Regions from separate parts of the Homo sapiens genome. Here region 1 is linked to region 2. Evidence: fine-mapped QTL for protein levels in blood plasma. A gene starts in region 2. The other region holds a variant in brackets. All regions are shown on one strand. Distances are from middle to middle. Region 1 overlaps IL31RA (interleukin 31 receptor A). Region 2 holds the start of IL31RA (interleukin 31 receptor A).

Evidence for each region. A credible set is the group of variants that fine-mapping cannot tell apart. PIP is the posterior inclusion probability: the model's chance that the variant is causal. The UK Biobank Pharma Proteomics Project read protein levels with antibody pairs (Olink). The fine-mapping took linkage between variants from a reference panel, not from the people measured, so its PIPs are less certain.
Region 1: its variant is the best candidate, but not a certain one, in a credible set for the plasma level of the IL31RA protein (UK Biobank, PIP 0.57).

What each region holds. Positions count from the first base shown.
Region 1 is chr5:55,906,875-55,911,874 of GRCh38, reverse strand. It overlaps IL31RA (interleukin 31 receptor A), which reads right to left. Exons shown (of 15, transcript NM_139017.7): 10 at 4,415-4,516; 11 at 3,464-3,610; 12 at 1,203-1,343. Among named protein-coding and RNA genes, the nearest start is that of IL31RA, 58 kb to the right of the region's middle. RefSeq lists an enhancer at 1-1,057. The variant G/A (reference allele first, on the strand shown) is at 2,108.
Region 2 is chr5:55,848,250-55,853,698 of GRCh38, reverse strand. It overlaps IL31RA (interleukin 31 receptor A), which reads right to left and starts at 2,342. Exons shown (of 15, transcript NM_139017.7): 1 at 2,066-2,342. The coding sequence starts at 2,128.

The DNA of each region.
Region 1 (5,000 bases), 58 kb before region 2:
GAGGCTTTCAAGAATATTTCAAGCAATTTTTAGCTTGCCTCAGTTATTGCAAAAACTTGGCAGTGTTCCTTCATTTTTAATCTAAAAAGCGTTGTTCATTCTTTAAGACAGTTTTAGTACGTACTTAAAAATCAAATCTCTGTCACTCAAGGACTTAGCAAAATTAATATATATCTGTTTCTCCCATTCTCCTTCCTTCTTTCTGCTTCATCCCCCTCCTCATTCCATCTGCCTGCCTCTAAATATCTCCCTTAACCAGCCATCATATGAAGCTACATTTTATTTTACATTATTTGTTGTCTCTAGTAAATTTTTCTTGCTATTTTTTAATGTAAAAGTGGGTAAGTTAAATATATCATATGTCTTTTTGCTCAAAAAAAACCTCCACAAATGATGAGGTTAAGCCCCTTCCTATGGGTCAGTAGTCCTGAGTTAACCAAGGTTTTCCCTTGAAGGCCCTGTTGTACAGTGATATGGTTTGGCTGTGTCCCCACCCAAATCACATCTTGAATTGTAGCTCCCATAATTCCTACATGTTGTGGGAGGGACCCAGGGGGAGATAATTGAATCATGGGGGCAATTTCCCCCATACTGTTCTCATAGTAGTGAATAAATCTCATGAGATCTGATGGTTTTATAGGGGGAAATCACTTTCACTTGGTCCTCATTCTCTCTTGACTGCCACCATGTAAGATGTGCATTTCACCTTCCACCATGACTGTGAGGCTTCCCCAGCCACGTGGAACTGTGAGTCCATTAAACCTCTTTTTCTTTATAAATTACCCAGTCCCGGGTATGTCTTTATCAGCAGCGTGAAAACAGACTAATACATACCGTAACCTATAACATGCAGAAACTGGTGACTATGAACGGGGAGACAGCCTTGAGATGGGAGCTGGTTTGGTGCTAAGACTGAAGTTGGCATTAATTTGACACCTCCTCCTCCAGATGATTTGTGGCTGCCCATGAGGAACGACCAAAATGACCAGCATTTCCAAATTCGGCTCTCAACTTGCCTGCTCTTCCCTCCCATCTCCTCACCTATATGCTTTCCAGGAAGGTTGGTGAACAGAGAGCAGGATGGCAGGGCACTAGGCACTGCCCTTTCATTTGGCTTCCTCCAGCTTTTGGCAGATGTCATTTCTCTCTGATGTAAGGTAAACGTGAGGGAGAGGTACCTAAGGCTTGAAGGAAATACTCACTGAATGACAATGTCTTGAAATTTATGCTGGTCCCGTTGGTTCCCCCAGCACTGGTGCTGGCCATGACCTGAACAATGTAAGAGGTCTTTCGTTTCAGGGACTCCAGGCCGTACTGCAAGATGCTGGAATTGACTGTCTTGGCTAAAGGAAAAATACAAAGGTCAAACACCACAGCCAAACCAGACTGAAAATTGTGTCCCAGTAGCACCAAAATAAGAGCATTGGAACCTGTGCTTCCAAGCTCAGCTGTCTCATATTCTGACCCCTATTCATGTCCTGCTTAAATATCAAGATGGATTAAGGACCTCAATATAAGAACTAGAACTATAAAAATTCTTAGAAGACAGCATAGGATAAATCTTCACAACCTTGAATTTCACAATGGTTTCTTTGATATGACACTAAAAACACAAACATCAAAAGAAAAAAATAGATCAAGCTGGACTTCACTAAAATTCAAAGTTTTTGTGCATCAAAAGATAATATCAAGAATGAAAAGATAATCCAAAGAATGGGAGAAAATATTTACAAATCATATATCTGATAAATAACTTATATCCAGAATATATAAAGAACTCTTATAAATTCAATAACGAAAAGATAACCCAATTTAAACATAAGAAAAAAGATGAAAAATACACTTCTCCAAAGAAGATATACAAACGGGCTGGCCGGGCGCAGTGGCTCATGCCTGTCATCCCAGCACTTTGGGAAGCTGGGGCAGGCAGATCACCCGAGGTCGGGAGTTCGAGACCAGCCTGACCAACATGGAGAAACTCCATCTCTACTAAAAATACAAAATTAGCTGGACGTGGTGGTGCACACCTGCAATCCCAGCTACTTGGGAGGCTGAGGCAGGAGAATCGCTTGAACCTGGGAGGTGGAGGTTGCAGCGAGCCAAGATC[G/A]TGCCATTGCACTCCAGTCTGGGCAACAACAGCAAAACTCCGTCTCAAAAAAAAAAAAAAGATATACAAATGGGCAAAAACTACATGAAAAGATGCCCAACATTATTAGTCAGTAGGGAAATGCAAGTCAATGAGATAACCACTACATACCTACCAGGACAGCCATAATAATTTTTTTTAATGAAAAATAACACGTATTGACAAGGATGCAGGGAAATGAAAACTCTCATACATTGCTAGTAAAAAATGTATAGTGTGGAGTAGTCACTGTGGAAAACTGTTTGGTGGCTCCTCAATAAGTTAAACTAGAGTTACAGTATGATCCAGCAATTCAACTTCTAGGTATATGCCCCAAAGAACGAAAAACACAAACTCAAACACATATTTGTACACAGCAGCATATGTTCGTAGCAGACATCTGTTCATAGCAGCCCTATTCACAATAGCCTAAAGGTTGAAACACCCTAAATGTTCATCAACTGATGAATGGATAAACAAAATATGGAATATCCACACAATGGAATATTATTCAGCCATAAAAATGAATAAGTACAAAATCATGCTATAACATGGGTGAACTTTGAAAACATGCTACATGAAAGAAGCCAGACACAAAGACCACATATTTTATGATTCTATGTATATGAAATATCCAAAATAGGCAATCCATAGAGACACAAAGCAGTTTGGTAGTTGCCAGGGGCTGTGGGAGGAGAGGAATGGGGAGTGACTAATGAATGGGTATAGGGCTTCTATTTGGGCAGAAATAGAAGAGTTCTGGAAATAGTGGTGATGGTTGCACAATATTGTGAATGCTTCTAATGCCACTAAATTGTACACTTTCAAATGTTTAAACTGGAAAAATATTTTACGTGTATTTTACCATAAGAAAAAATTATTTAGCCTAAGCAAGAATCCAAGCCTTGCCCAGTATTTAAGATGTCAGGAGATAAGGTGGACTGAAAAACAAAAGCATGATTTGGCAGGGGCAGTAGAAGTCATGGTGACAGGGTCTGTTCCTCCTCACTCTTTAAGCCAGGCACGCCATTCCTGGGAATGATGGTCGGGGAGCTCCCGGGAGGTCAATTCAGGGCCTAACCAGGACAAATTATAACAACTCCTTCCATTTCCTCAGGACTCTCCTCTCAGGTACTGTCACTTCACTCTCATTTAACCCCCAAAACCCCAAAAGGTGGGTGCTCTTGGCCCCATTTTCAGAGAGATTTAAAGAAGCTAAGTGATTCATGCCAGGTTGCAAGTCACAATGAGATGGGGGAGCCATGCCTACAACAGGTCTATCCATAGCATCTATCTGGGGCTTGGGGTTTTTTTCCACTTCGCTATGGGCGTGCTTACAGAATCCTTTTCCACCTTCAGCTTGGTAAAAGATGGTGTAGTTGCAGATGATACCCTTTCTCTCACTCTTGGGAATCTCTTTCCATGTGATCGTGACCGTCTTCACGCCAATGTTCTCCACCTTGGTCTCAGGACCTTCTGATGGAACTGGAAAGGACAGAGGGATAAATGATAATCACTGAACCGCACTCCAGGAGATCGTTCCCCCACAAAGGCCCTGGCCAGTACTCAGACCAAACCATAGTGCTGGAGGCGACGGGTGAGGGTTGAGTAGGGAATTGATGAATCAGCTTGTTTGGGAAAATTGTTTTCTAGAACCATCTCTCTTAAGCAAGAAGAGAAGTGGCAACAAGACCACTTGAAAAAGTCCTTTCTCATAGATGTCTCCAATTTGGTACCCAGCTTTTTCATTCATATCTGTAAAGTGTAGTTATTATCAAATAGTTGAAGAATATGGCTCCATAGGCTACCTTTGAGTGGCAGAAGATGTTTTCCAGTGTTGAATCTGGAAGACATGAACTTCCAAAAAGATAAAAGTAAAGCTTGAGCAATTCACCAGTAAAGCCTTTGCTTATTGCTACATAATTAAAAATAATTTTTTAACATCCCTAGCTTAGGATGAACTCTAGGCTCCCTGATGTGGTCTTAATTCAGTGTTATTGCTGGTAGCAGCTCTATTTGCACTGTTTATTTGTGACTTTGGGCAAGTTATTTCACCTCTCTGAGTTTTAATTTTCCATTTGTGAAATGAGGGGATTGGACTCAATGATCTCTAATGTCTACCCCAGCTTCAGAATTCAGCAAATTCATAACATACAGAGCTCACTACAAGATGAAGCACAAATGAGCCCTAAGATGGCTGGGAATGAGCTACAGGCACTTGCAGCCTTATCGGCATGTGGGACAGGTCACACTGTTTCCTTTTCCCCACAGGGTCTTGTCCATTCATACCGCCTTCTTTGGCATAAGCCTGGATGGAATATGGCTCGCCAACTTTGTCATGCAACATTGGATACACAGAGATGTTATAGCACCAGAAAGGTTTTAATTTATCTGTGAAAAAGAAAGAAAAAAAAGTGTAAGTGCAGAGCACGGCAGAGTGGGGGGAATACTAGACTAAGAGTTATGGCCAAACACTTATAGAAGATATTCCATTTCTCTACAGTTTCCACCTCTGGAAAATAAACAGGTTAGGTTGAATGGTCTCTAATATCTATTGCTTTTCTCAGATTTTCTAACTAATTCTTATTTTTAAATTTAGCTTTTTAGCTTTTTATTTTTTGGAGGCAGGGAATCCCCAGGTCTGTTCTGACCAAATACTATTGCAGCAGAGAGATCCATAGGATCGCTGAACACGCTGCCTAATTAAGTTCTAGAACAACATATCATCACCCTGTGGATCTCAAACACTGTGACTTCTATCTCCTCTACTTGCCTGCATCCCTGCCTGTGTATTATTCTTAATATGGATGTTTGAAGCATTAAGAAATGATTGTGGTGACAGGATTAAAAGGGTAAAGCCTCATTAGGGAGGCTG
Region 2 (5,449 bases):
AACAACCAGTTCAAGGAGAAATTCACGTGGTGGGTCTGACCCATAATTTCACTGAAGAAAACAGAAAAAGACTTTTATAAAGTAGAAAAAGATGATCAAACTATCACTCTTCTAAATGAATTAGCACTCACCTTCATGTATCAGGGGATGTTCCACAGATGTTCTGCTGGCTCAAAGGATTTGCATCAAAGGCAACTCCACCTCCCACAGCACAAGTCAGGACAGGAAGAACAATCTGGACTTTAATTTATCCACACTAAGATGTGGGAGTGTTTCCACTCTGATTGTCTGCGAGCTTTTCTTGTGCTTTTAAGCCCAGCCCAAGTCAAAGTGGCACTTACCCACTTATGCTGGGAAATGGATTGCATTATTGTTAACTAAAAACAAAAGCAAAAACAAAAACACTCAACTCTACAAAAAAAAAGGATCATCTGAAAGACCAGAAACAACTAAAAGAAGTGACTAACTTTTAAATTTTCTCTTCAGGAAGTCCTTACAAATGTGGTAATAGCTGAAACAGTGAGAGTATCTTTAGCTTGAAATGAGAAATACGCAATCATGTTAACTGTCTTTAGACAATGAAGGAGATGAAGGAAAGAAAATAATGGTAGCTGACTCCAAAAAGAGGCTTACAAATTCTTATTTACGTCTAAAGGAAAACATACTGAACTGAGAAACCAGAGCTTCAGTTTAGCCACTAGTAATAATCATCATTAATAATTTGTGGAGCTCTTACTGTGTGTCAGGCATAGTACTAAGAACTTCACATTAATTATCTCTTTTAATCTTCACAACAATCCTATAACATCAGGAGTATTTTTATTCCCACTTTATAGGCAAGGAAACTGAGGTCAAAACAGTAAGCAACATGTCCTACATGGGTGGTGGAGCCAAGACTTGAACCAAGGCAGCCTGACTCTCAGTTTCCTAGCAATCAAAGGTTCAAATTAGATTATTTCTAGGATCCCTTCTAGTACCACAATTTTGCAACCGTTTGTAATGGACTGACAAAACCACGAGAAATAAATAGACCGGGGAAGAGATTATGATGCAAAAGGAAAGAAAACTAAGTTTTAAAACAAGCTATGCTTTCCAGCCCCACATTTTAATTTTTAACCCATTCCCCATCTTCCTTAGGCAATGTTCCACTAAGTAGGAGGAATAAGGGTGAGAAAGAGAGCTAGTCTTTTACCTAGAAGATTATAATTATGAGATATTTAAAATTCCAGCCAGGCGTGGTGGCTCACGCCTGTAATCCCAGCACTTTGGGAGGCTGAGGCAGGTGGATCACCTGATGTCAGGAGTTTGAGACCAGCCTGACCAACATGGCAAAACCCCATCTCTACTAAAAATACAAAAAAATTAGTCAGGCATGGTGGCAGGCACCTGTAATCCCAGCTACTCGGGAGGCTGAGGCAGGAGAATCGCTTGAACCCGGGAGGCAGAGGTTGCAGTGAGCCAAGATCGTGCCATTGTACTCCAACCTGGCGACAAGAGTGAAACTCTGTCTCAAAAAATAAATAAAATAAAATAAAATAAAATTCCATTATAATATACTATAGAGAAAAGCTAAATGCTAGCACAAAAATAGCAAGCATTTCTTGAATTTATTCAACCAATACTTAGTAAACACCTATTACATGCATAACAGCTCACTAAAGGTGTTGTGTATTAAATAGAATTCTGGTTAAGACAAGACCAATTGAGCATATACATTTATCTCTACTCTCTCAGGAAACTCCACAAAAATTATGGCAAAGATATAGAACCACAAGACAAAACAAATGGGAAGAGGCAACAGCAAATAAGAGATGTCAACAAATCTTTGGAAAAAGAGAAATGAATCAAGCCATAACTGAACTGGTAAAGATGAGAAAGCAGAAACCTAGAAATGCCTAATAAGGTTGCCAACAATAAGCAAACATAATTATGCCACGGAATCTCATACGGCTCAGGATTTGAGACACTAGGTAGGTAAAATCAACCCTCATTACTCACAGCTTCCTTATTTGTGAATTCACCTACTTGCTAGGAATTATTTGTAACCCCCCAAATCAATACTCACAATGTTTTGCGGACATTCACAGACACATGCCGTGGTGAAAAACTTGAGTTGCCTGATGCACATTCCCAGCTGAGGTGGAACAAGCTGACACTCTGCCTTCCTGTCTCAATTTTCATACTGCACACACATGTCTTTTCATGGTCTATTTAGTGCCATGCTGGTTATTACTATTTTTTTTTGCAATTTTTTGCCTTTTATGAGTGATTTTGCTGTTTCGAATGCCCCCCAAGCAGAGTGCTGGAGTGCTGTCTGGTGTTCCTAAGCAGAAGGAGGCTGTGCCTCATGGAGAAAATATGTGTGTTAAATAAGCTCTATTCAGGCATGAGTCATAGTACTGTTATTAGCCATGAGTTCAATGTTGATGAATCAACAATGTATATTAAATAAGGTGTCTTTAAACAGAAACACACACAAAACAAGGTTATGTATTGATTAGCTGACAAAAATGTTGTGACCAGAGGCTCACAGGCACCTAACTCTATATTTCCCCCACAGAGAATAATTCAGTATTTTCTTTTTTTCTTTTTTTTTTTCTTCTGAGACAGAGTTTCGCTCTTGTTGCTTAGGCTGGAGTGCAATTGCGCCATCTCAGCTCACCGCAACCTCCACCTCCCGGGTTGAAGTGATTCTCCTGCCTCAGGCCAGCCTCCCATGTAGCTGGGATTACAGGCATGCGCCACCAAGCCCAGCTGATTTTGTATTTTTAGTAGAGACGGGGTTTCTCCATGTTGTTCAGGCTGGTCTCAAACTCCTGACCTCAGGTGATCCACCTGCCTCGGCCTCCCAAAGTGCTGGGATTACAGGCATGAGCCACCACGCTCAGCAGTATTTTCTAATTCAGTGTTTGTGGCGATTTTATTGAACATAATTGCCAGGAATAATGAAGGAATAATGAGAATTGACTATACCTCTGAAACAAAAATCATAAGATTGGTTGAAAATCTGAAAAAGAAATAGACTACCTAATCCTAACCCCACAAAGCCAAATTCATTAAATTTCTCCCATCCCAACAGCAGATGGGGGGAAAAAACTTGAAAGAAAGGCAATGCAGAAAGCAGAATATTTTTTAAAAGAAATATTAGTTAAACCTTCATAGAAAATAAGAAAAAATGTTGTACCCACAAAATATGAATAGGATGCTATGATAAAGGCATAATTAGAGAACAAGAACTCTTGGAGATTCAAAATATGAGAGCTGAAGTCTAAAGACTAGAAAATAAAGTTGAGGAAATCTTCCAGAAGATAGAAGAAAAGACAAAGAGATGAAGAATAGCCAACATCTGACTACCAGCAGTACAGAAGCACAGAACAGAGGAATGGAGGGAAAGAAATAATGAGAGAAGTGATACAATAAAATTCCCAAGAATTGAGGAACATTTGTTTCCAGATTGAAAGGGCCCACTGTAAACAGCATAATAAATGAAAATAAATCTACACTGAAGTACAAAACAGTGAAGTTTCAGAATATCAAGAATAAACAGAAAAAAAATGTTTCCAGATAGGAAAAAAATAAGTCACATACAAAGGATCAAGGATGAGAATGGCTTTAGACTTAATAACAAAACCAGAAGTTAGAAAGCAATGGATCAATTCCTTTATAACTCTATTGGAAAATTATTTCTCACCTAGGATGCTCTACCCATCCAAATGATCCATCAGAAAGAAAGGTAAAACAACGTTCTTGAAACTGCATTTTCCAACATGCCAAGTTTCAAGAACTTTATCTCCCATGTGACCATTTTCGAGATGTTATTGAAAAAAGTGACTACAAAAACAAGAGCATAAGCCAAAACAAAAAGGAAAAATGGGCTCCCAAAAACAGCAAATTTCAAATAGAAGAGAGAGAATTCCAAGAATGGTGGCCAAGGGAGATCCCAAGATGATAAGAGTACAACAGGCTTGGAGAGCAACTAGCCCAAGTGAGTGGCAGACGCCAGGCTCAAGGAGGGATATTTCCAATGAAAAAATACATGGAGGGGACCCAATGGATCTGACAGATGTTGAAACTTGAAAAGTTTTGCAGCACTCTTAGAAAGTTTGGAGAAGGATGAGTAATCGGCTCAGTAAGTTAAGGAAACCAAAAAATGGCATAATTATTAATTCCAGGAAAAAGAAAATGTTATATAAGAAAATATATTTAAAGTCCAATATGTGGCTCAGCTATGAATAACTATAGAGTCACAACAATGAAAACATTAATGGATTTAACAAAAGTTATAACTATATTGAAAGAATGGGGTTAGGAAAGGATGCACATATGTGTGTGTTTGTGTATAGAATTGGTAAGAGACTTCAGTCTTTATCTTCCATAGTTAGTAAGAAGTCAATAGATAATGTCTAAAATTGAAAAAAAAATTAAATTGCAGTATAAACATGTTCTTTATAGATATGGAAATAAACCCCAGAAAAAAAAAAAGCTAAAAGAAATGAAAGTGATTTTTTCTGTGAAGAAAGTTTGGCAATGGGAAGGGATATAGCACTGTATTGCTGTTATTCGTGGTAAGTCTTAGAGTGCCACTTGAATGTTTAAACTATGTATATGTATTACTTTGATAAAATGTAAAATTATATTTTAAAAGTGAATTAATAGGTGAATTAACAAGTGCTCTCCCCATGAAGGGAAATAGATGTCATTCTCAGTCTGACACCTCAACCATTTCCTCCTAGGAGGAGCAATGTGATTTGTTGGGTGGTTAGAGAGTCTAGATGAGAGGTCTTTTGTTTACTTGTTTCATTTTTTTCTTTCTTTATTCCTTGTTTGTTTTGAAAATAAGAAAGTCATAGAAAGAGAGTTCTAAGATAGATAAATGGATTGACGGATGGATAGTGTTTCCCATTTGAAGTGGGCTTTGAGTTGCAGCCCCTGAGGCAGCCCCCCCATCTCACACCTTGTTAGTGGAAAACATAGTAAAAGCATTTTAGATGCCTTTAATCCGGGAATTCCACTTTTAGATATTTATCTAAAAGAAATAATCATGGAGTTTTCCAGAGATATAACATCAAGGATGGTCATCATGGCAATGCTTATAAAAACCAAAACAGATAAATTGTAATTTGTTTTAAAACCCAGAGCTTTTTGGAGAAAAGGTTGATTTCAGGACTTGGGCAACGAAAATACAAAATGTGCCTGGAGTATCTTGTAGTACCAGATAGTAAGGAAATGTTGAAAAAGCAAAAGGATAGAGCATGTCAAAGGGACACAGGAACCAATCTGAAAGAACTTCCAGCCAAAGCCAGAACAATTTGAGCAAAAAAGTGAATAATGTATACTGGATTATAATTCAAAGTATAAAATAAATATACATTACTTCATATTAATATTAATAAATGATTGCATAAATAAATGTGGAAGAAGAGACTAATTTTCCTTATAGAAAAATTCT